3 separate regions of the Homo sapiens genome follow, and regions 2 and 3 are each linked to region 1. Evidence: fine-mapped expression QTL. A gene starts in region 1. Each other region holds a variant in brackets. All regions are shown on one strand. Distances are between the middles of the regions. Region 1 holds the start of ABHD14B (abhydrolase domain containing 14B). Region 2 has its middle 11 kb from the start of RPL29. Region 3 has its middle 23 kb from the start of RPL29.

What was found. PIP is the estimated chance that this variant, and not a neighbour inherited with it, causes the effect. A credible set is the group of variants that fine-mapping cannot tell apart.
Region 2: its variant is the best candidate, but not a certain one, in a credible set for the expression of ABHD14B in Th2 cells (Schmiedel 2018, PIP 0.59).
Region 3: its variant is the best candidate, but not a certain one, in a credible set for the expression of ABHD14B in whole blood (INTERVAL, PIP 0.80).

What each region holds. Positions count from the first base shown.
Region 1 is chr3:51,970,594-51,978,985 of GRCh38, forward strand. ABHD14B (abhydrolase domain containing 14B) reads right to left here and starts at 3,456. Exons shown (of 4, transcript NM_001146314.2): 1 at 3,372-3,456; 2 at 867-1,105. The coding sequence starts at 1,077. It overlaps ABHD14A-ACY1 (ABHD14A-ACY1 readthrough), which reads left to right and starts at 4,471. Exons shown (of 17, transcript NM_001316331.2): 1 at 4,471-4,611; 2 at 7,278-7,489; 3 at 7,666-7,781. The coding sequence starts at 7,354. ABHD14A (abhydrolase domain containing 14A) reads left to right here and starts at 4,471. Exons shown (of 5, transcript NM_015407.5): 1 at 4,471-4,611; 2 at 7,278-7,489; 3 at 7,666-7,781. The coding sequence starts at 4,543. RefSeq lists enhancers at 2,645-3,581, 3,615-3,794 and silencers at 3,025-3,174, 3,395-3,564, 4,395-4,774, 5,380-5,674.
Region 2 is chr3:52,001,426-52,012,157 of GRCh38, forward strand. No RefSeq gene overlaps it. Among named protein-coding and RNA genes, the nearest start is that of RPL29, 11 kb to the left of the region's middle. RefSeq lists an enhancer at 3,044-3,924. The variant C/CA (reference allele first, on the strand shown) is at 7,534.
Region 3 is chr3:52,013,385-52,024,116 of GRCh38, forward strand. No RefSeq gene overlaps it. Among named protein-coding and RNA genes, the nearest start is that of RPL29, 23 kb to the left of the region's middle. RefSeq lists enhancers at 1,645-2,524, 2,200-2,269, 5,348-6,110, 6,111-6,873, 10,546-10,732. The variant C/T (reference allele first, on the strand shown) is at 4,602.

The DNA of each region.
Region 1 (8,392 bases):
TGTGAAAGGCACCTGGCCCTGGATTGGGACAAGAGAGGCTCCTGAAGGACAGCAGCTGAGGGGTCGGTTCTGCAGCTCCTCCTCCAGTCATTCAGGCTTCACCAACAAGATTAGCTCCAGACCTTCACCCTGAAGCTCAAGCCAACCCACCATTGGAATCAATCCTGCCTGGGCAGGAGGCTCGCCCTTGAGCCCTGAAACCATACCATCCCTGGCCTGAGGGGGTGGGGCCAGCCATGCTGCTCCTTTCACACCTGGCACCGAGGGTTGGGACCCAGCCATCTGGGTTATGACAGGCAGTCTGGGCACTGATCCCATCTACCCTAGAACCCAGCTCAGGGCTTTGCATGTGGGATCACAAGTGGGGGCCTGGCCACCCACCAGGCCCTGCCTTGTCCCCCAGAAGACTCAGGTCTCACTCCTTAGGGCTTCCAAAAGCCTATGGTTATTATTCAGTCAAAATACTTTACTTCCAATTGGCTGAGCACCGATTACTCTGTGTCAGGTACTAGCCACATACTCACATGGATTATCTCATTCCATTCTCATTAGAGCGAGCCCAAAACATGAGTGTGGTTATCTCCCATTGCAGATGAGGAAACAGAGGCTCAGAGACACTGAGACAATGCCCAGGTAACAGTGAGGAGCAGCTGGGCGGTGAGGACCACATCTGGATCAAGACTGCTCAGAGGCCCTTGCAGTGTGCTTGACCAAACGCTGTCAAGTTCAGGGCCCAGCCTGGCTGGGTCCTCCAGATCCCACCGCCCCCACCCCTGGAGTGGGGAGGGGCTACATGTTATAGGAACCTGGCCCTGTCCCTAATGAGACCTCCCCAAACCCTGCCCAGAAGCCTGCCCCTTAAGTACCTGGCAGGTCAATGGCCACAGCCCGGTAGCCAGCCTGGGCCAGCCTGTGCAGTGTACCCAGGTTCTGCCAGGTCTCGGAGGAGAAGCGAATACCATGCAGCAGCAGTACAGAGAAGCGAGCCTGCCCACTGCCGGGCAGGGCCTCTCGGAAGAAGAGGGCCTGGCCCTGCACCTGGATGGTGCCCTCGCGCTGCTCCACGCTTGCTGCCATGCCTGCTGCTGCTGTGCTGGTGAAGGGCCTGTGGTTCAAAACCACGATGATGAGGGGCCACAGAACACCCTGCCCAGGGTGGCAGTCCCAGAGGAGCAGCAAGGAAGCCTCCAGGAGGTTTCCAGAACTTTAAGAACATGCCTTGGGGTCAGGAGGACATAGGTGTTATTTCTGCCTCTGCCATTTACTTTAGTGTGTAACCTGGGGCCTCAGCTTCTTGATCTGAAATATGGGAACAATAAAGCCAACTTCAAGAATTAGCAATTTAATTAAAAGTTTAAGAAAAATTATCGGCCAGGCATGGTGGCTCACGCCTGTAATCCCAGCACTTTGGGAGGCCGAGGCGGGTGGATCACCTGAGGTCAGGAGTTCAAGACCACCCTGGCCAACATGGTGGAACCCCGTCTCTACTAAAAAGAAAAAAAAATTAGCCAGGTGTGGTGGCACGTGCCTGTAGTCCCAGCTACTCAGCAGGAGAATCGCTTGAACCCGGGAGGCAGAGGTTGCAGTGAGCCGAGATCGTGCCACTGTGCTCCAGCCTGGGTGACAGAGTGAGACTCGGTCACAAAAAAAAAAAAAAAAAAGAGCCAGCTGATGGTCACATGTAACTCTCATTAGGCCAGGCGCGGTGGCACACGCCTGTAATCCCAGCATTTTGGGAGGCCGAGGCGGGCGGATCACCTGAGGTCAGGAGTTCGAGATCTCCCTGATGAACATGCAGAAAGAAACCCCATCTCTACTCAAAATACAAAATTAGCCAGCTGTGGTGGCACACGCCTGTAATCCCAACTACTTGGGAAGCTAAGGCAGTAGAATTGCTTGCACCCAGGAGGCAGAGGTTGCAGTGAGCCGAGAACGCGCCATTGCACTCCAGACTGGGCAACAAGAGAAAAACTCCATCTCAAAAAAACAAAAAACAGAAAAATTATCAGTGGGGGTGCCTGCTGTAAAACCTCAATATGTGGTGGGGCTCCATTACAATTACTGTTCTTATTCTCATCGTTATTATCCTTTTCTATAAATGGGGATAATTCAATAGTACTAGCTCATAGGTGGTTGATAGGATTAAATAAGGCCATGCATGTACCATGCCTAGCACGTAGTAAGGGCTCAGTGCTCAATCAACGGTAAGTTACAGGTCATGAGTTGTCAATGCAGGCCAGAGGGAGCCCAAATTGGGGTAAAAAGCCCATTTTATTTTATTTTATTCTATTTATTTATTTTGGGACAGAGTTTCACTCTTGTTGCCCAGAATGGAGTGCAGTGGCATGATCTCGGCTCACTGCAACCTCCACCTCCTGGGTTCAAGCGATTCTCCTGCCTCAGCCTCCCGAGTAGCTGGGTTTACAGGCGTGCGTCACCATGCCTGGCTAATTTTTTTTTTTTTTTTTTTGAGACGGAGTCTCGCTCTGTCGCCCAGGCTGGAGTGCAATGGCACATCTCCGCTCACTGCAAGCTCCGCCTCCCGGGTTCACGCCATTCTCCTGCCTCAGCCTCCCGGGTAGCTGGGACTACAGGCACGCGCCACCACGCCCGGCTAATTTTTTGTTTTTTTTTTTTTAGTACAGACGGGGTTTCGCCGTGTTAGCCAGGGTGGTCTCGATCTCCTGACCTCGTGATCCGCCCGCCTCAGCCTCCCAAAGTGCTGGGATTACAGGCGTGAGCCACCGTGCACGGCCTAATTTTTATATTTTTAGTAGAAACGGGGTTTCATCATGTTGGCCGAGCTGGTCCGGAACTCCTGACCTCAAGTGATCCACCCACCTTGGCCTCCCAAAGTGCTGGGATTACAGGCGTGAGCCACCGCGCCGGAACTAAAAGCCCATTTTCTTCGGTTTTTTTTTTTTTCTTTTTTTTTTTTTTAAGAGAAGATGTCTCGCTCTGTCGTCCAGGCTGGAGTGCAGTGGCGCAATCATGGATCACTGCAGCCTTGACCTTCCTGGGCTCAAGTGATCCTCCCGGCTCACCCCCAGTAGCTGGAACCACAGGCGCGCTTCCACACCGGAAAGCCCATTTTCTAGAGGCGGAAACCGAAGCGCCCAGTGGGAAAGGCGACCCGCCGGGGATGCGGGGTGCTCAACGCGCTGCCACCTGGGGCCCAACGCGTTGACCTCGCGGTCAGGTTGCTTCCGCGGACTACGGTTCTGGCTCGCTAGCTCTGGAAGGGAGCACCGGGAGGGAATGGTGGCAACTCCCAAGGAGGGGACCCAGGGATCCGAGAAAGGAAGACTTGGGGTAGGTGGGGTTGGATTTTGACTGGAGAGAAGAAAGGGTCAGGAGTGCAGGGCGGGTACCTGGGGAGCTGCGTGGACTCGCGCAGACGGGAAGCAGGCGCGTGCTGGCGGTGACCTGGGGCCGGAGGAGGAACGCTGGGAAGAGGCCGGGCCCCATCCAGCGGGGGCGGGGACTGGGCCGTGCTCCGGGGCGCCCTCTTGTGGCCACAAGCTCGCAGCGTCCATAGACTCCGCTAAACTCGTTCTCACAGCGGCGTCAGTTTCCCAAAGCCTCTCGGTCTCACATGCCCCAAACGCGGTGCTGAGCACGGTTTCGAACTCTTCAGCGACCTGCCCCACATGGACATGGAGCAGTCTGAGGAGGAAAGTTCCTTCGGGATCGCATCCTTGCTGCTGTCTTCCTGCTCCCCATCCCCCTTATCCCCAGCTTGAACTGCCCAGGGCAACTTGTTGGCCTGGCACGGAGTTGAGGCCCGACAGGTTTGAGTGCGAGGCTCCGCCAGTGTCCAGCCAAGTGGCCTTGATCGTTTTCCCAATGCCCCCGAGCCTGTTTCCTGCCAGTAGAGCGGGTCAGATGTTGCCAACCTCTGCAGAGTAGCAATAAGCAGTAAACGCCACGCTCTGCACAGCCTCCCAGTGCTGGGCCTGGTCGCCACGCGGAGCCTTGGGCTGGGACAGGCCAGACGTTGGTAACACATCGCCAACCAGGGCAGGCGCCATGAGTAGACGTGAACGAGCCCAGGGCCAGCCCAGGCTCTGACCGTGGGTGTGCGTCGGGGAGGGGGTGGGGAGGAGTGGGTAGGAGTCAGGAAAGTGGGTCGGCCAAGACCTGGAGCTGCTGCATAACAATATCTGGCATTTACACAACGAGGCCTCTGCTCCGGACACTGTTCTGAGGCTTGACCCGTCCTTAAGAACCTAGGACAACCCTGTGCGGTGGGTTTTATCCTTAACTCCATTATACAGGCCAGAGAACTGAGCCAGGGTGGAGATGTTCCACTGAGAAGAAGCCACATGGCTCTCCGCCGGCTCTCAAGCCAAAAACAGTTCCGAAAATCTGGGCGGGGAGCGGGCCAGAGAGCGCTGGGGCTCTGCCCCCAGCACCCCCTCCACGCAGACGACTCGGTAACTGGGTTGCAGGCCCGCGGCTGCGGAGTGCGCAGGCGCGCCGAGATGGCCGCGCTCCTGGCCGCCTAGAGCCGGAGCGGCCCGCGGAGCTGCGGAGGCAGCCATGGTCGGGGCGCTGTGCGGCTGCTGGTTCCGCCTGGGCGGGGCCCGCCCGCTCATCCCGTTGGGCCCGGTGAGTCTCCCGGGGGAGGGAGGCCGGCCGGTGGCCCAGGGGAGGGCCGTCTTTACCCCGCCCCTTGCCCCGGCGCCCCGGGGCAGAGTCCCGCGGAAGAAGCAGACGCTGGGGCCGCGAATGTGCATGTGCGCGCGTGTAATGTGTGTGCGCGCGCAGGGTCTGCATATGTTCTTGGGGGTCTGGGTGTATGTGTACGCTTGTGTGTCTGCATGGTGTCCGTCAGTGGGTTTCTGCGCGCTTATATTTTTGGGGGGGGGGTGTGTTCGTTGATGTCTGCCTGCTTGTGTCAGCGTTATGTCTTCCGAGTGTATTTCTGTGTGCGTGTGATTTTAAGGGTATGTGTCTACCTGTCTGCGTGTGTGCATTTCTGGGGGTTTGTGTGTGTGTGCGTGTCTGCTTTCCTGTGCATGTGCCTTTCTTGTGTGAATGTGTAGTCTTACGGTTGTGTGTATGACCGTGCTTGAGTATTTCTGAGGATCAGCCTGTGGTTTTCAAAGTGTGCATCTCCATCAGTCTCTCTGGCTTCCTGATGCCTGACTGTGTGCGTGATGTAGAGGGTACCATTACAAGGGATTAATTGCACACGGGCCAGTGTGTGTGCAAAGAGGCTGCATGTACATGCAGGGAATAGCTTGTGCAAAAGAAAAGCGTGTGGGGGCAAGACTCGTATTTGTGCGTGTGTGCACCTGTGTGTCATTGTCAACGCATATTCCAATGACCTAACCCGGGCACAGTTTACCCTGCCCCCCGCAAACCCCCGCAGGCGGCCAGCTGCAGGTCCACTACAATTTCCTAGTACTGCGGGCACCCTCGGTTGCCAAGGCAACAGCCTAAGCCCCGCCCTTCCCGCTTTGGAGAAGCGCGGGGGCGCCCCGAGTGGGCAGCAAGGAAATGTCCCTCGCGCCCGGTGGGAATCTGGACTAACGCCCAGTTAGAGACGCGCGTCTGAGGTTGTTAGTGGTCTGGAAGAAAAGAGGAACGCGCTCTTCCTCCACTAGGTCCTGGTTTTCCAGAAACAGCAGAAAGGCGGCTGCTGCTGTGGCTCACAAGCCCCCCGACCCCGAAGCCTGGGGATGCGGGCTCAGGAAACATCCCCAAAACATCCCGGAGGGATGAATAGGAACCAAGACGGGCCCCCGGCTCCTAGTTCGGGCAGGCGCCCAGTTGGCACTCAATAAAGATGTGCTGGCCCGGCGCGGTGGCTCACGCCTGTAATCCCAGCACTCTGGGAGGCCGAGGCGGGTGAAACACGAGGCCAGCAGTTCGAGAACAGCCTGGCCAACATGGTGAAACCCTGTCTCTACTAAAAAATACAAAAATTAGCCGGGCGCGGTGGCGGGAGCCTGTAATCCCACTATTCGGGAGGCTGAGGCAGGAGAATTGCTTGAACCCGGGAGGCGGAGGTTGCAGTGAGCCGAGATTGTACCACTGCACTCTAGCCTGGGCGACAGAGCAAGACTCCGTCTCAGAAAAATAAAAATAAAATAAAGATGTGTTTGCTGGACTCCTGGAAGGAAGCAGGCGTGCTCATCCTAGGCCCAAGAAATGACAGGGACAGCCCTGATCCAGTCCACGGTATTATCTAAATCTCACAGGAAGCTTAGGAGGGCAGCCACGAGGTTATCCCATTTTACTGACAAACTGAAGACACAAGGTCAGGAAGTGGCAGTCTCAAAGGCCTGTCCTGTTTGAGTCCTGGGTCCTAAGGGCTGTCCTCTGGGGTGGCAGAGACCCCAGATTGGAGGAGTCCACGAAGCAGTCATTTGGCCAGAAGCTGTCTGTGTGTAGGATGGGGAGTAGCAGGCGGCATTCATCTCTCCAACCTCTACACTGTGCTTTTCATTTCTGGGTGTACCATGCTCCTCCCTGGCCCTGCAGCCCCTCACTCCTCAGCATTTTCCTCTATTACAAGACATTCTCTGTGAGCCTCTTCATAACAGCTGGGTTAGACCTTAGTTATAATGCGATTGTAAAACGCGTTCTGATTTTAGCAGTATTAAATGCAGTGAGATTAAAAGAACCATTTCCAAACATGCCCTTAAGTGGGAGGTCCCTTTGCGCGCAGTCTTTCTCCTTTGATAGCCCTCATCACTTTTTCCACCTGCAAGGCTCCAGTTCATCCATCATCTCCCAGCTCCACGGGTTCCTCCTTGGCAAACCGAGTGTGGCCTGGTAGTTAGAAGCCCATTCCTAGGTTCAAACCCCAATTCCCCCACTTGCTACTTGGCACTTTGGGCAAGAGAATGTACCTCTCTGAGCCTCCATTTCCTCACCTATAAGAGACCTATAATCACGTCTGCTCCCCAGCATTCTTGGTGGAAAAGAACCTTGTATGTGAAGTGCCACACTCAGGGCCTGCTGTCATAAGCGCTTGATGAACGGAAGTGGTTTCAGCTGATGCCATGATGGTGGCGGTCACTGAGCATGCTGTGTGCCAGAGAACACCTCAGATGCACCTCCTCACACTGTGAGGTATCTGAGCGCTTGCCCTGGCATGTGGAGTAGTTGAGTGTGAACTCCCAGAACTTTGCCCAGAGCAAGGGAAAGGGCAAGGGCTGGAGCTCTTCCTCTGCTGGGGACTCTGGGTGGGGTTTTGGGATGGGATCCAGGGTCCTTGTAGGGACTCAGTTCCAGCCTCTTTTCCCTCTCCTCTCCCTCTCCAGACTGTGGTACAGACCTCCATGAGCCGGTCCCAGGTAGCCCTGCTGGGCCTGAGTCTGCTGCTCATGCTCCTACTGTATGTGGGGCTGCCAGGCCCCCCTGAGCAGACTTCCTGCCTCTGGGGAGACCCCAATGTCACAGTCCTGGCTGGTCTCACCCCTGGCAACTCGCCCATCTTTTACCGCGAGGTGCTCCCACTCAACCAGGCACACAGGTAGGTGCTGCTCCAAGGGTCTAGTGGAGGGACTAGGCTCAAGGGGAGTCCCTGTGTGGGACCCCCATTATACTCAGGGTGCTCAGGTCCTGGGAGGGCAATGGGAGAAGCCTAGGAATAAAGAAAGGTGGGCTACACCAGGTTCCCAGCAAACACATTCCCCTGTGTGCCTGCAGGGTGGAGGTGGTGCTGCTTCATGGAAAGGCCTTTAACTCTCACACGTGGGAGCAGCTGGGCACACTGCAGCTACTGTCACAGAGGGGCTACCGGGCCGTGGCCCTTGACCTTCCAGGTGAGCACCCCCACCCCTTTGTCTAGGGAAGCCTTAAGTGTGGCTGGGAGGCAACTGGACCCTAGGGTCTGGACAGGCCGTGGCAGGTCACAACATAAGGTGGCACCATGAAAAAGTCTGTGTTTTCATTTTCTACTATGAAAACTACAGTGTGAATTCTAGGTCATGGAGCAAATAAAAACTCTTCACAAGCAGTATACTTTCTTTTTTTTTATTTTATTTATATATATTTTTTGAAACAGAGTCTCGCTCTGTCACCCAGGCTAGAGTACAATGGCACAATCTCGGCTCACTGCAACCTCCGCCTCCCGGGTTCAAGCAATTCTCCTGCCTCCGCTTCCCCAGTAGCTGAGATTACAGGTGACTGCCACCACGCCTGGCTAATTTTTGTATTTTTAGTGGAGATAGGGTTTCACCATGCTGGCCAGGCTGGTCCTGAACTCCCGACCTCAGGTGATTCGCCTGCCTCGGCCTCCCCAAGTGCTGGGATTACAGGTGTGAGCCACTGCGCCCGGCCAAGCAGTGTACTTTCTATGGCAAACCATATAGGTTTTGTGTTTTTAAGTACACAAATGATTTATGCTATCATTCTTGTCATTAAAAAAATGAAA
Region 2 (10,732 bases), 32 kb after region 1:
TCACTCCCCACCAGGAGCCTGGGATTCAAAGCTCCTGGTAGAAGGAAAGGGCCATGGGCTGCATGCAACGCCAGGCTGGTGCTCAGTATCTGTCAAAAGAGAGTCATTTCCAGCAGAAACTGGAAGGTGCGGCCCATTCCTCAGGTCATCGCGCGCGCGCCCCTTTCAGCCCCAGGCCTGATCTCCCTCTGGGGGCGCACCTGGCCCACCTAGCCCAGGAGTGAGCCGGGATGTGAGCCTATCGTCCGCAAGGGGGCAGAGTGGGACCGCGGATGAAGTCTGGTGCTGCAGGTGGGCTGTAGACAGGCACCCGCTCCCCTCCGGCGGGACACTCTTGCAGCCTCCCAGGCCTTTCACAGCTGCGCTTCTCAGCACGCCCCACCACCCCCACCTCCAGATTCAGTGCCTGTCTATTTTGAACAGGTTCTCTAGGCTGGGTCAGGTCTCCCTCAGCTCCAAGTTCCTGGTGGTGGTGGTGAGTTGTCTTCCCCCAGAGAGGGTTCAAGGCAGAGGAAGTAGAGCCTGTGGGCATCCCTGGGCACAGCCCCTCCTGGCCCACTTTAGACTTACCCAAGGGCGATGCCTCTTGTGGGTTAAAGGAACAGGCTTTGGCATCAGACAGACTTGGTTTTCGATTCTGACTGCCACTCACCAGCAGAGCATCTTCACCTCTTGGAGCCTGCCTGCCACAGTGGAGGCGAGTAGCACCAGGGCTGAGGAGGCAGGAAGCCTCCCAGAGCCTCGCTGTGCATTTGGGAGGCCCGCGGGTTTGATTGTGAGACCGCACAGCAGCCTTTGGAGGGGGTATGGTTTTTATCACCCCACTTCACAGGTGGGGAGATGGAGTCCTTGGGCATGACTGGCTAGAGGTCCCACAGCCAAATGGAGAGCTACTGCAGTCCAGGCACCTACCAGAATCTGGGGGGGCACGGGGTGGTTTGTACCCAATGAGGCCATGGAGGGGGCCTTGTGACAGTGACTGCCATGTGACGAGAGAAGCCCGTGGCCTTTATGGCCAACGGATGCCCAGAGTGAGGGCATCCTCTGTGCCAGCCCCTGCTTCTGCCAGACACACCTGCCACATCCAGAGCAGGCCTACAAAGGAGGTGGTAGTGTCCTTGGGTGGAGGGCAGGCTGCTGCCTGAGCAGGCCTGGGCTGGGGTCAGTTGGCCTCAGGCAGCCAAGGACTGGCCAAGTATAAATGGAAGAAAAGTCCAGCAGCACAGAAAACCGACCTGCTAGGAAGGATGGGAGGGAAGGGATAGGGTAGGTGGGTGACATGAGGGTGTTGGACAGGGCTGGATGGAAGCCCGAAGTATCTCTCCCCACTCCTGTTCCCAGCCACAAAAGGAGGCTACGGAGATTCCCTTTTAACAAAGAGCATCTGAAAAGGAAGAATGAAGCTGAGGGTTGGGAGGGACACCCCTCTCCTTTCCCTCCCCAGCAGGCTCCAATGGCCCCAGCAATGTCGTTGCCTTGGCAACCACAGCCCCCTTCTAGCTCCCTTTCTCCTTTAACCCCATCCTGCCTGGATGCACCTCTCGCCTGTACCCTCCCTCCCTCTCTTCCCAGCTCAGACTAAAGAGAGACTTGGCGGGCTGGGGAGAAAGGACTTCTCTGCTCACCAAGCAGTCCTGGGGTTAATGCCCTGGCTGCATCCCAGGACCGCCCCTTCCTAGGGATCAGATGGACAACTCTTTAAGATGGAGACAGGACAGGACGAAATGACCTTTGAAAGAATTATTCTGAATGAACAAGGGAGCTGTCTTCTCCCAAAGATTTCAAGCCCCAAGTCTCCCAGTCCTCACTCCCTCCCAGGAGACAGAGGCTGTGACCCAGGAGCCCCTGGCGGAGTTTAGGAAACAAGCGCTGGAGCAGGGGGGTTTGAAGATCATCTAGTTCCCCTCTCTAAGCCAATGGGTGGGGAAACTGAGGTCTAAGAGGAGGAGGAATTTACTCAAGGGCACACAGTGAGTATTGGAGAGTCAGGGAGGGAACCAGAGAGGCCTGAGCCGGGATGAGGGTGGAGGCTGCATTTGCTACCGTTGGCCCGAGGAGTGGCTAGGTACAGAGGGCCACAGGAGACCTGCACCCCATGGGAAGGCAGTTGCTGATGTTTCTCTCCTGAGTCCAGAGAAAGCCCCTGGCTGCCCTCACCCACTTTTGTTCCCTGAGAGGTGCCTGCCTCCCTACCATTGGTGTTCCTGGGTTTCCTAAACTTAGTGCTTCAGTAACCCCCTCCCAGGCCCCAGCGCAACATAGGCTAAGGAAGGAGAATGAGTTCTGGCCCTGTTTAGGGCGGCACACGGGACTCTAGCAAGATCAGAGAGGAGCTAGAATTCTGAGAGGGCTGGGGATTCTAAAGGTCCCATTGAGAGTGTCCCCTGAGCACGAAGGGCTTGTGGCTGCAGGCAGCAGGTTCTGGCCCAAGGGCAGCCCTTTCTTGACTGTGTCCCTGGCAAGTCACTCAACTTCTCAGAGGCTGCTAAATGGCCCAATCCCACCTCCACGTAAACAAGGTCGGCCACACAGGCTACACAAGATTCCCATGAGGCGGCAGACACAGAGCTATGGACAGGTCCTGGGAGGGGGTCCCAGCCCCAAACCTCTTGTATCTGCTGTGCCAGGGCTACTGCCATGATCACTTGGAGCACCTACGGTATGCAGAGCCGGGGAGGCTGGGAGGGGAGGAAGCTGTGGGCACAGCACCCCTAGATGTAGACCAGAGAGGGCTCCATTCAAGCCAGGCCAGCAGGCTCCAGAAACCTTCTGGGGTTGGAGGAGCGCCCTGGGAGCCTCCCTGGAAGATGAGGCAGGCCCTGTGCGATCAGGTGGAGGTGGAGAGAACACAGTGGGCTGGAGAGGGTGAAGGTTGGCATTTGCTCTCATAGCTCTCCCAGCTGATCCGGACCTCCCTGAGCTGTCGCTGCGACCCTGAAGACCCCAAGGCCTGGCCGGAAGAGGGTGCTCTTGCCTTTCCCGCACACAGCCCAAGTCCTGGGCGCCAGCAGAGAAAGGGGCCTGCTGCTGGGGGCTGGAGTCAGGAGCTTTGCCTTTATTGTGGCTGGTTCTCACCACACCCTCAGAGTGTCCTCGCCTGTTAATCCCACGTTGCAGAGGAGGAAACAGGCTCAGAAAAGTAAAGCGACTTGCCCGTGATCACCCAGCTTTTTCTCCCCATCAAAGCCGCTCCTTGAAACTCTCCTGGGCGTGGACACTGCCTGAGACTCTTACACTCAGGTGGGAAGTGTGTCACCCAAGTGTAGGAAGTGTCATCCCAAGATGACAGCTTGAGAAAAGGAAGGGGACGCCTACCGGAAGGAGTGACCCTCTGGTGGACAGTGCTGAGGTGTCCATGGAAGGTGGGGACAGGTGCTAGGAGACTCGGGCCCACCTCATCCAGCAGGCGTCCCCCTGCAATATTGCATTTGTTAGTCCCTCTTTCTACATCGGCCCCATACCCACTCATTAGTTCTTCAAATTCTCAGGCACCCCCTCAGCAGGCAGCCACTGGCGAGGGCTGGGGAGCACGGTCCAGACCTGCCTGGATGCCAGGCAGCTGGGTGACCTTGAGCAGAGACTCAACCCCAAGGCTCAGCTTCCTCATCTGGGAGAGGGGGAGCAGGGCATCACTTACTTGGCAGGCTGTGGTGGGGATCCAGGGACCTGTTCATTCCGAGCACCTACCAGGGCCTGGCCTGTGGACATTGCTCAGTCACTGGCTCACCCAGGCACTCCTCAGCCCTGGTTAATCCCCCAGCCACCTGCCTACTCCTGTGCCCACCTGCGGCTTTGGTCCCCATTTCCCAGTAATCCTCAGGGCCAGGTGCTGGCAGTCAGGGGGTCAGGGTTGTCCCTGCCCACCCAGCAGGTCTCCTAGGACAAGGCTCAGATTGGACAGATGACCAGGCAGGCAAAATGGGGGTCCTTCTCTGCCCTCCCCAATCTCCCCTGGTGGGCAGAGGCTGGTGGGGACAGAGGCAAAGAATCCCGCCCAGAGTGGGGATAAGAGAAGGGGATGGCTCTGCGGTGGCCCTCCTCCCCGTGGGCAGGGCTGCTGGGGACAGGGTCAGATGAGGTTGGGCTGACAAGCAGCTGCTGAGCGGTGGCAGTGAGGGACATGTGGGGACCCCCACCACTCCTAACAACGCGGCACCAGTGCCTAGGAGCCAGCGGGTGAGAGGCCCACGGTCCTGGCTCTGCCTGTCTCAGCGCCTGCTGCCTGCCTGGCACAGGGCCCTTGCAGCACTGGTTTTAATCGATCACTCTTTCCGCAAGCAGCTCCTGGAGGTGCGGGGGTGGCTTCCCCTTGACTCCAATCTCCTGGAGGATGCAGCTTGGCTAAAAATAACTTGAATTACTGAGCTCCCACCCTGGCGCAGAGGAGGGGCCTGGGGGCTGCGGGGGCGGCGCCTGGAGGGAATGTTGCCGCAGCCAGGAGGGGGTTCCCTGACAGGAAGTGGAGAAGAGTGAGTGTCGGCAGGTGGGAAGGAGTGCAGCTTGTTGAAGGGAGGCTGGCCCTTTCTCGCCCATTCCTCCAGGCTCAGGCCTGCTCCCTGGGGACAGTGCTTCTTGAGAAAACCTGGGGAAGGGCTGGCCCTGACCCCTGCACTTGCATCACTGAGGGTAAGTGGCCTGGCTGCAGCGGGGGTGCTCCTCCCAGCACAGACACCGGATTTGGAGGAGACTCCCCCTGTAGATGCTCTGGGCAGGAGCCTCCTCCCTGCCCTCCCACAGGGCACCAGAATGCAAGCCGTGTTGGGCATCAGGCAAGAGGAGTCAGGTCTGGTCTCATGTCCTGTTCCTTCTGTGTGACACTGAACTCAACTTCCTTATCTGATAACTGGATGCAACTGCAAAATCAAGCATTTGCCTCCACCCCCATTCTGCAGGCAGCCTCTCATCTGTCTGGAGCAGCAGCATCAGGCTCCCTGTCACTCACTCCCAACCGCCTTGGTGCCTGCAGAGGGGGCAAGTCCCGTGACCACCCTTCAGAGCAGAGTGGGTGTTATGCCCAGGTTGGGCAGGCAGGACCTGGGTCTCTCGAGGTGCAGCAGGGCAGGTCAGGGAGAGTGGGGACTCCAGGGCCTCAGGGAGAGTGGAAGGTGACTTCAGGGCCCAGGCAGAAGCCTGGGGTCAGGTGGCATGGTAATAGTCCCAGCTACTTGGGAGGCTGAGGCACAAGAATCACTTGAACCTGGGAGGTGGAGGTCACTGCTGCCCCCCTGCCATCCCCATCTTCATACCCCAGGGCCAGGCCAGAGCAGGATGCTGTACAAGCAGTTCAAGGGCAGGTCCAGGGCTGCATGGCGGAAGGGGGACAGGATGGCAGTCCCTTGCATGTGCACGGAGGCAGTGGGGACATACTGGTGTTGGACCAATCTGTCCTGCAGCAGGGAACAGGCTGGGAGCTCCCAGCCCCCGCCATTGCCTCAGTTCCCTCATCTGTAAAAGAGGTCTGGATTAGATGCTCTCTGAAGTTCCTGACAGCATCTGGGGAAGATGGAGCATAGATAGCAGCTGCCCTTGGGAAAACAGCAACAGCTACGACTTCAGCTTCCCTGCCCTTCACTGAGCACCTCTGGCGCTGAGATGCTCTGTGAGGACAGCACTGAGGTTATCCCCCATCACACGTGAGGAGACCGAGGCTCAGAAAGGGGGACTTGTCTGAGGTCACATGGCTTGGACGTGATGGGCTGATTTTGAACCCGGCACTGTCCAACTGCAGTCTGTTTTCCCATTCCATCCTATTCTAAACATAGGGCCTGGGGGATGAGACGTGCTTTTGGGGGTGACTCAAGGTGGGGTGCAGGGGCATGGATCCAGATAGAAGTTCCCTACAGCTGTGCCCCCTCCCACACCCCCTCCCACCCCCACCCAGGTTTGGCTCAGGTCACAGGGAGCCTCATTCTGGGGCACCAATGGGACTGGGAAGTGGCTGTGCTTGCGGGAGGTTGGGAGGAGAGGAGGGAGTGTGAACCTGCTTGAATGGGAACAGGACCAGTGATAATAATAATGACAATAACTCCCTCCCCCGACCCCAGAGACATTTTTAGCAACACTGTTCCTAAGGAGAAACTCAAATATCCGGTGACAGGCAAATTGAGAAATCAGCTGCAGCTCCGACAGCAGCATGGGTGAATCCTGAACCATCATGTGGGTGAAAAAGCAAACTGCAGGAGACTACATTCAGTTCAAAGCCATTTTTATAAAGCCCCCCTGAAGTATAACTAAATGATATAGTTTTAGGAGTTCAGGTGTGTATGATGACAGAACTATCTGCAGGCTAGGAAGTGCTAAACCAAAATTTGCCATACTCGAGGAGAGGCAGGAGCTGGATAGGGAGACCCACACGGGGGACCCCACCCACGGACACCTGCCACAGGCCCACAGGGTGCCGGGCACTCTTCATGGTGTGGGGAGATACAGGCATGAGCAAGGCAGACATGAAGCCCGGGCCTTGTGGAGCTTATGGTCTAGCAAGGCAAGTTCCGTGCCCATTCTGTGTTGTATGGTAGATCGCAGGTGTCAATTATACTATTTTGCACTGTCTGCATTGTCCGTTACAGATATTCTTTTTTTTCTTTTTTCTTTTGAGATAGAGTCTTGAGACAGAGTCTCATTCTGCCACCCAGGCTGGAGTGCAGTGGTGCCATCTTGGCTCACTGCAACCTCCGCCTCCCAGGTTCAAGTGATTCTCCTGCTTCAGCCTCCCGCATAGCTGGGATTACAGGCATGCACCAGCATACCTGGCTAATTTTTGTATTTTTCTAGAGACAGGGTTTCACCATGTTGGCCAGGCTGGTCCTGAACTCCTGACCTCAGGTGATCCACCTGCCTCGGCCTCCCAAAGTGCTGGGATTACAGGTGTGAGCCACCACGTCCAGCCACAGATATTATTTTATTTTATTTTATTTTATTATTTATTTATTTATTTTTTGAGATGGAATCTCGCTCTGTCACCCAGGCTGGAGTGCAGTGGCGCGATCTCGGCTCACTGATAGCTCCGCCTCCCGGGTTCATGCCATTCTCCTGCCTCAGCCTCCCGAGTAGCTGGGACTACAGGCGCCCGCCACCACACCCTGCTAATTTTTTGTATTTTTAGTAGAGACAGGGTTTCACCATGTTAGCCAGGATGGTCTCGATCTCCTGACCTCGTGATCCACCCGCCTTGGCCTCCCAAAGTGCTGGGATTACACTCATGAGCCACCGTGCCTGGCCTGATATTCTTTTATATTAATCAAATACTGTATTTAGTCCAGGAGCAGTGGCTCACGCCTGTAATCTCAACACTTTGGGAGCCTGAGTTGGGTGGATTGTTTGAGCCTAGGAGTTCAAGACCAGCCTAGGCAACATGGCAAAACCCAATCTCTACTAAAAATACAAAAATTAGCCAGGTGTGGTGGTACTACATGTCTGTAGTCCCAGCTACTTGGGAGGCACAAGAATCACTTGAACCTGGGAGGTGGAAGTCACAGTGAGCCAAGATCGCAGCACTGCCCTCCAGCCTGGGCAACAGGTAAGACTCGGTCT[C/CA]AAAAAAAAAAAAAAAAAAAAATATATATATATATATATATATATATATATATAAAAAATACTACTGTTTTATCTGTTTAAATACTATATATATAATCTGTTTAAATGCTATATATAGGCCGGGCGCTGTGGCTCACACCTGTAATCCCAGCACTTTGGGAGGCCTAGGAGGGCGGATCCCGAGGTCAGGAGATCAAGACCATCCTGGCTAACAGGGTGAAACCCCATGTCTACTAAAATAAAAAAAAAAATTAGCGGGGTGTGGTGGCGGGCACCTGTAGTCCCAGCTACTCAGGAGACTGAGGCAGGAGAATGGCGTGAACCCGGGAGGCAGAGCTTGCAGTGAGCCAAGATCGCGCCACTGCAATCCAGCCTGGGCGAAAGCGAGTCTCCGTCTCAAAAAAATAAATAAAATAAAAATAAATAAATAAATACAATATACATCTGCACACACATATATATACTATAGTGTGTATATGTGTATACACATATATACTATAATGTGTATATATACCATATATATAGTATATGTGTGTGTGTGTATATATAGTATTTGGTATTTAAATAGATTAAACAAGGAATAAACACAAACTTAATTGACCTTCTTCTCCCCAGTAAAACATCCCACCCAAGTGGGTGGGTTCTGGGGGCTGAGCTCCTCTCCCTGCTACCCCTCATGGATATCCCATCACACTCAGCTAGAGGGGGTGCGAATCCCAGATCCCTTCCCCCCTCTCAATCTCCCAGCCCGACTGAATGTCCCACAAAGTTATTCTCTCATTTACCAGCAGGTAAGAGTCAAATATCGTTTGGAGTGCTAGGCTGGAAAGTGGGACAGAGTTCCCTACCTCTGGGAGCGCCAAAGTCATTTGGAAAGATAAAATGCAAGAGAAAGACGTGCAGGGTGGCCAGGCACGGTAGCTCACGCCTGTAATCCCAGCACTTTGGGAGGCTTGGGTTGGCAGATCAGTTGAGGTCAGAAGTTCGAGCCTGGCCAACATGGTGAAACCCCGTCTCTACTAAAAATACAAAAAATTTAGCTGGGTGTGGTGATGCAAGCCTGTAATCCCAGCTACTCGGGAGGCCAAGGCAGGAGAATCGCTTGAACCCAGGAGGCAGAGGTTTCAGTGAGCCGAAATCCCGCCACTGCACTCCAGCCTGGGCGACTGGGCGACACTCCTGGCAAACATCCCTCTCCTGGTTCAGTGCTCTTGCACTATATTAATAGTGATAGAGAGTACAGGAGATGGGAGGTAACACGTATGACCTGTCTCAAGCTGTTCATTCCCATCAAAGGCAGGGGGGTCAGGAGGGCTTAGTCTGCCATCCATCCATCCAACCATCTCCCCATCCATCCAACCCTCTATCCATCCATCCATCCATCCATCCATCCATCCATACATACATACATACATCTATCCATACATCTCCCCATCCATCCAACCCTCTATCCATCTGTCCATCCATCCATCCATCCATCCATACATACATACATACATCTATCCATACATCTACCCATCCATCCAACCAACCATCTATCTATCTGTAATAGGCAGACTAATGTCCCCCAAAAGATGTCTCCATCCTAATCCTAGAGCCTGTGATTATGTTACTTAACATGGCAAAGGGGGATTAAGGTTGCAGATGGAATTAAGGTTGCTAATCATCTGGTGTTAAAATAGGGGGATTATCTTGGATTATCTGGGTGGGCCCAAGGTAATCATATGGGTTCTTAAGAGGAGAAGAGGAACCACAGAGATGGCAGCATGAGAAGGACTTGGTCTTACATTGCTGGCTTTGAAGATGGAGGAAGGGGCCACAAGACAAGAAAAAATGACAGCCCCCAGAAGCTGGAAAGGCAAGGAGGACATGGATGCTCCATTAGAGCCTCCAGAATGCAACCCTGCTGACACCTTGATTTTAGTCCAGTGAGACCCCTTTCAGGTTTCTGACCTCCAGAATTGTAAGATAATACATTTGTGTTGTTTTAAACCATGAAACTTGTGATAATCTGTTACAGCAGCAATAGGAAACTAACACAGCAACTAACGAGCCAGCCCTTCATGCAACCATCCACCCAACCACCTATCCAACCATCCATCCAACCATCCATCCAACTGTCCATCCAACCATCCATCTAACCATCCATCCAACAATCCATCTGTCCATTTAACTAACTAACCACCCATTTAAGAAATATTCATTGACCGTCCCCCTTGTGTCACCTGGCAAGCTGTGAAAAAAAAGTGGGCAAATTACTGAAGCTCCCCACCCATTGGGAGCAATAGATACAGGATTTCAATCCAGGATCCTCAATGCTATGATGGTAGAATATGAAGCACTTGGGAAGGATTATGGGAGGCTTGATGGCTTTTGGTGGCAGGAACAAGGCAGGGAACGCTGTAAAACAATTGTGAGTCCCATTGATTTTTTTTCCTTTTTCTTTTTCTTTTTTCTTTTCTTTTTTTTTTTTTTTTTTTTTTGAGACGGAGTTTTGCACTTGTCACCCAGGCGGGAGTACAATGGTGCGATCTCCAGTCACTGCAATCTCTGCCTCCTGGGTTCAAGGGATTCTCCTGCCTCAGCCTCCTGAGTAGGTGGGATTATAGGCACCTGCCACCATTCCCAGCTAATTTTTGTATTTTTAGTAGAGACAGGGTTTCACCATGTTGGCCAAGCTGCTCTCGAACTCCTGACCTCAGGTGATCCACCTACCTCGGCCTCCCAAAGTTCTGGGATTATAGGCGTGAGCCACCAAACCCATCCGATGTTTTTTTCTTTTAATTTTTTTTTTTTTTTTTTTTTTTGAGACGGAGTTTCGCTCTCGTCGCCCAGGCTGGAGTGCAATGGTGCGATCTTGGCTCACTGCAACCTCTGCCTCCCAGGTTCAAACAATTCTCCTGCCTCAGCCTCCTGAGTAGCTGGGATTATAGGTGCCCACCACCACGCCCAGCTAATTTTTGTATTTTTAATACAGACCGGGTTTCACCATTTTGGCCAGGCTGGTCTCGAACTCCTGACCTCAGGTGATCCACCCACGTCAGTCTCCCAAAGTGCTGGGATTACAGGTGTGAGCCACCATGCCCGGTGAATTTTTTAAAATTTTGAATAAAAAAAGCCAACAATTGTGAGTCTCTGCAGCCAGCTCCTCACCTGAAGGCTGCCCCTTGAGGCCACTGTCCCTTGCTACCTCTTTCCT
Region 3 (10,732 bases), 44 kb after region 1:
TCTGGAAAATGGAGCAATACACACTAGCCCACCATTTGTGGAATGCCTGGGTACTGTGCCCAGAGATCTTTTGATGTTTAATCTCATTGCTCACCTGATTCTGAATACAAAAGTTGAGGCTTCAGGAGGAAGCAGGCTGCCCAAGCCCATGATCCATGGAGGCAGCTTGTATGTGGGTCTGGCTGACTGGGTGCTGGTGCAGAGCTGAGCTGGGGCAGCTGCCTGTTGGCTCTGAGACCACTGTGCTTGCTGGGCTCGGTCTGCCCCACCCCATCCTCCCCTGGAACAGGTTTTCTACTCAGAAGTTGGCCTCTAAGGATCTCCCACCCAAAGGGCTGAAGCTCTGGATGCTCATTTTTCCCTGACTCGCTTGGGAGCCTGGTGAGATGTAAGGGACCCCCTGTTTTTCATCCCTCTCTTCACTCTCTCCTCCTAGCTGCATTCTCTGCCCAGCTCTGGATCCTGGAGGTGAGATCAAATGGGAGAATTCTGTTGGCCCAGGCAATGTCATCTTCCTTCAGATGTGTGACACCTTCCTAAGTCTGGCCAGGCAGCAGGGACAGAGACTCAGGCCCACCTGGGACCTGGTGACCCAGGCTGTTCAGTGGCAGCCAGAGGTGGGGGCACAGACTAGGGGTGTTCATTGTACAGACACCCTTATATCCTGAAGGGGATCCAGCTGGGATTAGGCTGGATGCCAAATAAGACAGGCAGCATGTGGAAGCCCAGGACCCGGGTTCAAGTCCTACATCCACTAGAGCAGGCTAGGAGAGCTTAGATAAGTCACTCATCTGTCCATCCATGCATCAACCACCCACAATCCATACAACACACATTTATAAGGCATCCTCTGTGTGTCAGGTGCCATGAGCAGGTGAAAACCTGCCCTCAGAGGTTGCAAAGGTGTAAGCATGGGAACAATCTCATAAGAACAGAGAGATGAGAGCAGGGTGTGTGCAAGCAGGATCCTGGTGTTGTGCAGGGTACAGCTTGCCCTAGTGGACAATGATGATGCAGCAGAGGTGGACCCAGAGACGACCAGGCAGTTGGGGCTCCAGGTTGGGTGCACACGTGTGCATGTGTCACAGGACTCTGACTCTGGGGGCTGTTGGTAGAAGCCTGGAGGCCCCATATCCCTGCGGTAGTCGCCACACTACAGCAAAGTAGTGTGTTTGACAGGAAATACCTCGGCAGCCATTGCAATTTAGGTTGCAGAGCACAGAGCAGTTGCCCCCGCGATGGTCAGGAAGCCCAGACCAGCAGAAAGGGGTGGAGAGAAGGGACTTCACCTGCTCTGCCCTCAGACTCTGCTCCCAGCTTCTGGCCTCAGGCTACACCAAGCCCCAGGATCCAGTGCGTGCATTAAAGGAAGTCCGCAAAGCCTTCCTGGCCTTCTTATCAGGGATGGCTTTGGGAAGGCGTGGGTTGGCAGCAAGGCCTCTAGGGGGCCACCCTGGAGTTAGGCTTAGGGACGAGGGGGTAGCGTGACTTTTTTGTGGCAGCTCTCAAATGCTGGTGTCCAGCCTCCCAGTGCAGTCCCATCTCCTTCCTGTCTCTAACCTACCTCGTTGTGGTGGCTTCATCTCTGGCTGGGCCAGAACCCCACTGGAAGACTACAGTGGACACCTCTCTGAGGCCCACTCCAGCCAACTGGGTGGGTGAACTCAGCTTAGTCTCTTGACCTCTTTGGGCTGGGAGTACCCTTCTGAGCAGGTACCTTTGGGCCTCCAAGTCCCCAAGGGAAACAAAGAAAGGGACTTTCAATCCTAGCACAGAACCAAGAAAGGAAACAGGTCAGGAAGGAGGTGGCCAAGGTACTTCTTGCATGCTGGACCTTGATGACGGGAGGCCCCACATCCCACATCAGCCTCCCTCTAGACTCCAGTGTGTCCACCCCACTCCCTCCTGGGGTAGGGCCCATCTAGCTGCTTCCAGCCAGTTGCCTGGTGCATGGTCGGTGCTTGCAGAGGGAGTGCCCTGCCTCTCTGTCTGTGCTTTCTGTAGGGGAGGATCCACTTTCAGACCCTCACACGCCCTGTTCCTTCTGCCTGGGACAGTGTACACCTCACCTGACGGAGCCTAAAGGTCACTGCCTCTGGGAAGCCTTCCAGGACCACTTTAGTCAGGCCAGGCCCTGCACGCTTGTCTTGCTTTGTCCAGCTCCATCTCCTCTTCTGAGTGAGGGGACTCCCCAAGGGCAGGCCTGGGCCCCCAGCATGCCCTGGGCTGTGCCGGGGCTCTCAGGAGAGCTTTTAACTTCCTCTTATCTGCCATTCCTACTCCTGAACACAGTCTGCTATCTTTCCCCTGGAAGAGCTGAGCAGGAGGGGAAGCAGCCACTTCACCTCAGCAAGACCTCTTGGATGCCGCTTTCTGGGTTTTTGCCACTCCCCTAGCAGCCATCTTCCCTGAGGGCTACCAGGGCTTCGGGCATCCATCTCTTCTCTTCCAGAGCTACCTTCTGCAGGAGAGATCGTGAGCAGGAAGGGAACAGGGCTAGGAAAGGGGGCTGGGGGCTCCAGGGGAAGATCCCTGAAAGACACACTGCACCCCAGCTGTCTGTCCCTGCAGCATGCGATGGAGGCTGGGGGTGGGGGATGGGGGAGATGGCAGGGGCTGGTCCTCGGTCCAAATCCAGGTCACTCCCAGCCTGTTCAGCAGCCGCTCAGTAATTAGGGGCCAGCAGGACGTGGGCAGGCAGGTGGCAGGAAGCCTAATTGTCTGATTTTTCAGGTAATTAACAGGCGGCTGTCTGGCCAGTCCCCACGGGGCCCAGCATCCGCCACCCCATCCCCTGGGCAGCCCTAGGTACCTAATGAGGCCAATTACTGAGTGGTGCCCAGGTTCTCATTAGCCACCTGGAAAGGTCATGTGGGACTGGCACCGGGGGGCAGGGCTCAGCCAGCCATGGTGGAGGCTGGGCCTCTCCCCGAGAAATCGGGGTGCAGCATGGACAGGCTGCTGGGCTCTGCTGCTGCCTGTTGAGGGGTAGCCCGTCCGACAGCTGGGACCTCTCTTCACAGCTCCCTTTTCAGGACAGCAGCTTTAGGTCAAACGCCAAACTCCCTTGCCACCTCCCAGCCATGTGGACTTGGGTATGTCAAGCCCCAATCTGGCCCTGGGATTCCTGGATCAGAGATGATGGACGTAAAGCCCAGTAGGTGCCCCGCACGTGGGTGGGCACTCACCTTCCAACAGTGCCAATTCCTGTCCTGACTCTACTTGTGAGGAGCAAGAGGACAGAGGGGATAGAGCCTGAGGTCACCAACATGTCAGGAGCCCACTCTGCAGGGCCCTGGAGGCTGAGGGCAGCAGGGACAGCTCCCTGGGATTCACCCCAGGGGACCTCAGCACCTGGGTGGGGAGTCTTAGGAGGGGTCAGTAGAGGTGGCCAGACCAGGCTGGGGGTGCTCTAGAAATGGCTGGACATCCAGGGCATCTGAGCTGGAGGAGGAGGGGAAGCAGGCAATCACCAGGAAATGAGGGGATTCGGAGACCATGGTGGAGCCCTCCCCCTCCCTGGGTGCTCTGGGACATGTAGTGAAAGAGCCCGGAGTCCCCACGCTCCTGTCCGAGGCAAGAGCTCGTTTTGTCTTGGTCAATTCTCGCCATTTTCAGCCCAGGAAATCAGGGGAGGTCTGCATCCTAGGATGTTGAGCCTTTTGGGCTTCTGTGGCTCTTCTGTTTTAAGAATTTTGTGACCTAATTCCATGCTGACAAATTCCATGCTGTTCCGGCTTCTGTAATTGTCAGCTAACGCTACTTTTGGTCCTGCTGCTGGCCTAGAATCTAAGTTAAGGGTTTCCAAAATGTGTCCCCCAGGAGTTCTTGGGTAGAGGCGGAAGTGAGGGGTGAAGGGATACCTGACCCCACAACTGAAGCAGCTTGCCTTTGGTCACTGGGAAAATATTGGTAGCTGCCCCTTTGTGAGCTCTTGCCTTGTGCAGGAAATCCGTCTCTATGGTTGTGTTTTGTCTTCATAAAACCCCAAAAGGAAGATAACATCACAGTCCCATTTCCCAGATGAGGATGCTGAGGCTATTCCAGGCTAAGGCTGAGCAGCTTGCCTCAGGTCTCAGAGCTTATAGGAAGAGCCGGGACTTGGATCCAGTTTCCACTCTGAGCCACCGGGAATATGGGTTCCTTAGAAAAAAAACTAGCTGCAGGGTTGGGGATGTGTGTGTCACATTTATCTAAACTTGTTTCCTCCAAGTCGGGGTGTGGACGCTGGCCTCTCTGTCCCAGGGAAGCGTGGTTCTAGTGCCAGGTCACCCAAGGACCCCTGCATCCCGCCACGCAGTGTGGTGTCTGTGTGTTTGAGGGCCCGTCTGCCTGTTTCCCTTCCCTCTGCTGTGGGCTCTGCTTTGCTCACGGTCCAAACCAATAAGATCCAGCCCAGAAATAGCATATGTTTCCAGCCTCTGCTCCTCCAAGTCATACATCGCCTGGTGTGATGTGTCCCTGTGTCAGCCTGCTTCAAGACTCAGGGCGGGGGTGGCTGAGGAGGGAGTGTGAGGAGCACGCAGGGCCACCTCCAGGTTGAGATTTAGAGGTGAAGAGCCGGGTGAGCCCAGGACACAGCCTCAGAAGGCAAGTGGGGA[C/T]CAGTATTCCCTAGGCCTGGGGCCGGGTTGGGGGCTCAGCCTGGGTTGGGAGTCAGAGGTTGATGGCCCAGATTCATCCTGGGCCTAAGGGTTGAGACTTTAGAAACTAGCTGGGCACGGTGGCTCACGCCTGTAATCCCAGCACTTTGGGAGGCTGAGGCGGGTGGATCACCTGAGGTCAGGAGTTCGAGACCAGCCTGACCAACATGGAGAAACCCCATCTCTACTAAAAATACAAAAAATTAGCCAGGCGTGGTGGCGCGTGTCTGCAATCCCAGCTACTCAGGAGGCTGAGGCAGGAGAATCGCTTGAACACGGGAGGCGAAGGTTGTGGTGACCCAAGATCGTGTTATTGCACTCCAGCCTGGGCGACAAGAGCGAAACTCCGTCTCAAAAAAAAAAGAAACTAGAGTTGGGGCCCAAAGGTTTGGGCTTCAGTCTTGTCTAGCAGTCAGAGGTCCAGACTCAGCTTGGAGTTAGGAGTTAGAGGGCCGGGTTCACTGTTCACCGCAAACTGACCTTTGACCCTGACTCCGACCCCAAACTGAGCTTGGACCTTCATCCTCGTCAGGACTCAGGCTAGTCCCAAAGGCCACGACTGCCTGAGGAAGAGGTCCCCAAAGACCCAGAAGCCTTCCTATTTTCTGGAGACGACTCAGAGCAGGACTGGTAACAAAGAGATGCCTGAAAAATGGGCGTCTAGGGCTTGGACATGACCACGCACAGGGTGGTAGCCAGGTGCGGTGGCACGCGCCTGCAGTCCCAGCTACTCAGGAAGCTGAGGCAGGAGGATCGCCGGAGCCCAGAAGTTTGAGGTTACAGTGAACTATGACAGTGCCACTGCACTCCAGCCTGGATGACAGAGCAAGACCGTGACTCTAGAAAGAAAGCAAAGGGCTTGGACCGAATCTTGTTCCCGAAGGCCTCCAGCCCCGGCTGCCTGCCTGCTCCCAGGGTGTGCTTCCCCTGAAAACTTGGCTGCTCATCTCTGAAATGTGGGTGATCACAGCACCCACCTTCACGTCGATCACGCTCCCTCTGGGTTGCCGATTTCTACCCTCAAGGCTGTAGCCTCGAGGGACCAGGGGTAGCTGAGATATTAAGTGCGGATGAGTGTTTGAGGCGGGTGTGTGAGACACCTAGCGTGGGTTCGTGCCCCTTCCCTACCTCCACGGCATGGGGGCCTCAGGGACGGGGCTGAGCCAAGGCTGTAGGTCCCCAGTCACAGCCCAGGGCCCCATCACTTCCCAGGCTACCTCCAAGAGGTAGCCCTGCGGCCTGTTCAGGCCTCATATGTCCCACCTGAGCAGGGGACAGGCAGTACTGTCCAGGGAATCTTTTCCAGGCCTCCATTCGGCCAGCTGGGTTTTCCCGCCTCTTCTCCATTCTGGGCCCAGCGTGGAGAGACATTTGGGGACCAGCCCACATGGCGGCCAGTGGAGGAGCCAGGGTGGAGTAAGCAAGCAGGAATGAGAGGCCAGCGGGCAGCGGAAAAGGGTGCGAGGGGGAAGCCTTATCACAGGCTTCTCTGTTCTCACCTCCCACGGGGCCTGGTCACAAACCGGCCTCAGGCACCAACCCACAACTGGGGCAAGAGGTCTCCCCTCCCCAGGGGACCACAGGAAGATTCAACCAAGGGGGAAACCAGTCCTGTGTGAGGGGCAGAGGGGTGGGGGCTGGAGGAGGAGAGCACCCCTGGGGGACAGCAGTGGTGGAGTTCAGAGCCAGCAAGGGAGGGGTGGACGACAGGGGGATTGCTCTGCTGCCCAGCATGGGAGGCCTCCAGGGTTTGGCTGTCAAAGTCCCGGTCACCTCCTCCAGCTGAGCTATTAATACCCAGCTACGACCCACGCACCCTTGCTGGGAGGACGCCGAGTTCCTCAGGGAGCTAAAAATGGTTTCCCATGGGGGCAGGCAAGCCCTCCTCCCTCTCTTCTTGTCAGAGGAGCTAAGGCCAAAGGCCAGGCTGGCTTGGAAGGGGACGGGGCCAGAGTGGAGGGGCAGAGAGAAGCGGGTGGCTGAGGATTCCAGTTGGGAGCAGGAAGGCACTCATCCAGTCCAATCCCCATTGCTCAGAAACCCGAGAGGGAGGGGGCTTGCCAGTGGCCCGTTCCAGGAGGGGACCACACCAAGGTCTCCTGGCTCCTTGCCCCCATCCGGACTTTCTCCTTTCCCTCAGGTCTTCGTTTGGGCCTCCCCAGGCTGCAGTGGGGCTGGAGACTGAGGACTGCCTGTCACCTCCTGCCAGGAGGGGCCTAGAGGAAAAAAGGGGGCTCCAGGGAGACGTTTGGAGCCTCTGGTAGGAGCTGGGCTGCCTAAAGCATGGCCACTTATGTTTCTGTTTCATGTGCAAAATCTTGTTTATCCACAGCATTGTCTGAGAAGGGAATTACTGGCAGCACCATTTTACAGATAACAAAATTGAGGCTCAGTCATCTCCCCAGAGCTTGAGCTGGAAGGAGCCAGGCTGCCTGACTCCAGACCCTATCCTGTGTTGCCTCCTGTTATGGGTTATTGGAAAAGGAGATTTCCTGGTGTGTTAGCCGGGGGCCCACGAAAAAGGTGTTTCCATCCCAATGTCCTGGTCATCACAGTGTCCGGGCCCACTGAGGGGCATGGACCAAGAATGAGGAGGCTGCACGGGTGCCCTTCTGCATTGACCAACCCTCCTGCCTGGACCCATTGGCCACTTCTTTCTCCATTCCTGGGGCTCAAGGGCACATCCTCAAGGCCTGTGCTGGTCTTCTGGCCTCAAGGCCACCCAAGGCCACCTGTTTCCTGCTGTGTCCTTTTTTCTCATGGCAGATGCTCTAGGGTCCAGACATAGACCCCAGAAGAGTGCAGACTTGGCCAGCAGATTCCAGACAAGAGAGTGGCTGACAGAGGTGTCAGCCCCAGAGGTCCCCCCGTGCTGGAAATCCCGACAGCTGCCTGGCTAATAGATCCTGGGTACCAAGCCCTGACCCCGGGCAGCCAGCGGCCGTGTCAGGGGTCCAGAGAAGTTGGGGGAGGTGATGGCTGGAGCCAGGGCAGTCTGCCTGTGGTTAGCGAGGCCGTCAACACCTTCTGGGTTGCCAAGGCAGAGTGGGGTAGGGGTCTGGGAGAGGGGTCCTGCCCTGGCCTGGAGAGAGACAGTCTCTGGCCTGGCCTGGAGGTAAGGGTAGAGGCAGCTTCTGCCCTAAGGGTTCTGGGAAGGCTAAAGGATGTAGGCTGAAGGAGACCTGGCTCTAGCTTAGGAATGTAAGGAGGGAGACAGGCCCCTGGCCTTTGGAGCTGGTAGAGGGGGTTTATTTCCTAATGGCTGGTGGGGACTGGGGTGCTGAGGGGTTGTCTCAGACTGACTTCACTTCTCCATCCAGGAAATGAGCTGGCCTAACTCTGCCTGGATTTTCCTCAGCCCCTGGGGAGGGTCCTTGCCTTTGAGCTGGGGTAGGGAGAGACTGGCCACCCTCAGAGACCGGGTTCCAAAGGAGCCTCTCCCGGGATGGGCCCAGGGTGGCTGCCACCTCCTACCTGCTCCCTTGCCCCCCATGCCTTCGGTTCTCCTAATGTCCTAACATCCACATGCTCTCCTGCTCTGGGGCCACTCTCCAGGCAGTCTTCCTAGATTGATACAGGCTGGGAGGAACCATGTTCCCAACGCCCAAAGCAGGCCTGGAGCACCCCTGCCTGCCCCTGCTCTTAGGAACCCTCCCCAGCAAGGCCTGGCCTGAGGCCGTGGGCCTCCACCTTCCTTTTCCTGTTCTTTTCTCGGTGCTGCCTCTCTCCAGGCTGTCTCCTACACAGCAGCCCTCTGGTTCTCCCTTGTGTCTCTCCATCTTGTTTCCCTGGGTTTTATCTTTGTCCCTTGGTTTCAGACTCAGACCCGGCTGTGTCTCTGGTTCAGTCTCCATTCTGCCTCTCTGCCTCTGCAGTTGGACTGGTGACTCCCTGTCCCCTCTCTAGCTCTGCTTGGCTCTCTCTTGTCCTGTCTCTGATTATCTCCACCTCTTTGTCATTGTGACTCTGGAACCCTCCCTGCCTGGCCAGGATGCCTGCTCAGACATCTGCTCCAACTGCCACGCACTGGGCCCCATGAAGAGCTTAGGGGACTTGTAGTCTCAGCTCTGGCCCAGTGCCAGGGGAGCTCCTGTGATTCCCAGGAGGCAAGCGAGGGAGAGACGAGACAGAGGGCCGCGTGCCTGCTCTGCTTGTCCCTTGGGGAGCCTAATGATGCTGGGCCTCCCCTTGGTCAGGCCATTGGCCATGCCCCCCCACCCTGGCTCCCAACTCCCAGCACCACATGGCTCATGGTCACCCCCAACGCCCCCACTATGGCTGTGTGACCCTGGATGAGTTTCTGAGCCTCAGTTTCCTCTTCGACAGAGTGGAACCAATTCCAAGGCCAGCTTCAGCAGGCATCAGAAGGTTAAATGTCAATGCACATGGCAGGCATCTGGCACTGTGCCCAGCATGCTGTGGCGCTCAGTAGAGTCCCCGTTACCATCACTGTGGCGGTTATTCTTCAGGATCCCCAGAGCCATGGCCAGTCGGATGGGGGCTGGGTGGAGCCTCTGCTGCTTGTCCCCATGTGCACCCTGCGTCCCACGCCCGTCCTTCCTCTGCTGGGCAGTAGACGCCCCCACAACCTGGGACCTGCCTGTCTTCGGAGCCAGTCTGAATTGTACACAGTGATGCTCACCCAATTAATTTTCACTGGCTTGGGGATATATTTTTTTTAAGAAGACATTTTTCCAGGGGGAAAAACACGCAGGAGCTATAATTAGTTGGGAAGAGGAAAGAAGAGCGGAGTGTGTGAATCACCAGCCCCAGTGACAGACTGTTGGAGCCGAGCAGAAGTTTCAAGAGAAGCCACTGGGTTGTGGGTGAGTTGGGGTGGTGTGTCGTGGGGATGGCGCGCTGCCGCAGGCAGGCTGGGGTCCTGGAACACCAGGTCCAGGGATGGGCACCTTCACCCCTCACCCTGAAGAGTCTTTTGCCCCGCCTCTCCCCAGACCCTGTCACCCGACACCCTATCCCAGCGTTCAGCTTCCCTGCAGCTCCTGTCTGCCCTGACTGACCCCAGGACCTCTCCCCTCCCCAGTCCTTGCTGACACAAGCCTGAGCAGAGAGACTAGCACTCAAATGAGGAGAGAGAAACTGTAGAGGATTTGAGCTCCAGGGTTTGGAGACTGTCCAGTCCAACTCCTTATTCATTCATTCATTCATTCATTCATTCATGCATGCATGCATTCATTCACTTAGTCATCAAATACTGAACTACTGCTCTGTGCCTAGCCCACAGACAAGCAAACTGAGGCCCAGGGAAGTGCCAGGCCTTGCCCAAGGCCATACATCTGTGAGTGGTGCAGCCTCTCTGCCTGTCCGTCATCACTAGCTCTGCTGAGCCAGGCCCTGGCCAGGGCTCTGACCACCAAGGTGACCACAACTGGAACCCACTCTCACAGAGCCCCTATCCCAATGGGGAAGCAACCAGGTACCTGTTAGACAAGGAGCCTGGAGGTAGTTCCTGACCAGCCTGGTGGACATGGAGGACTTCCCAGGGGAGGAGGAAAAGCAGCATGACAGCGGCCATCATGCTGGGAAGGACCTTAAATGACTCAGTGTGCCTAAGCTCGGGGAGTGGCAGGAATTGGGGTCAGGGTTGCTAGAGAGTGAGGCTTCTTGGACCAGGTCATTACAATGCCCATTTTGCCCACATTTCTCCTGAGCTCCTGCCTGAATGGGCATGACCTGCTGGCCAGGGGCACCCTGGGGCAATGCTCACCATGTGGACTTGGTCCTTGGAGACCCTCCACTAGTTCTTCCTGATGCCGGGAGCACCAGTCAGTCAGTGGACCGGACAGTCAGTGACCAAGGAGTGTGGCCCTGGGTTTCTCCCTCCCTCCTTCTCCCCTGGCTGAGGACCGGCTGCCTGACTCTCTAGGGGCCCCAGCTCAGGCCTCAGGAGGGAGCACACTGGAGCAGTGTGGCCTGGAACTGAGAGCAGAGGCCCCAGGTCCCCAGGGAGGGGATGCTTCCTCCCCTGGGAGAGCGTGGCATCATTCGGCACACAGAGAGCTCCCTTCTAACCCCAGACCAAATTAGCCTTCCAAATTATAGGCTGCGTTTCCTCTAAATTGGAGACTGGG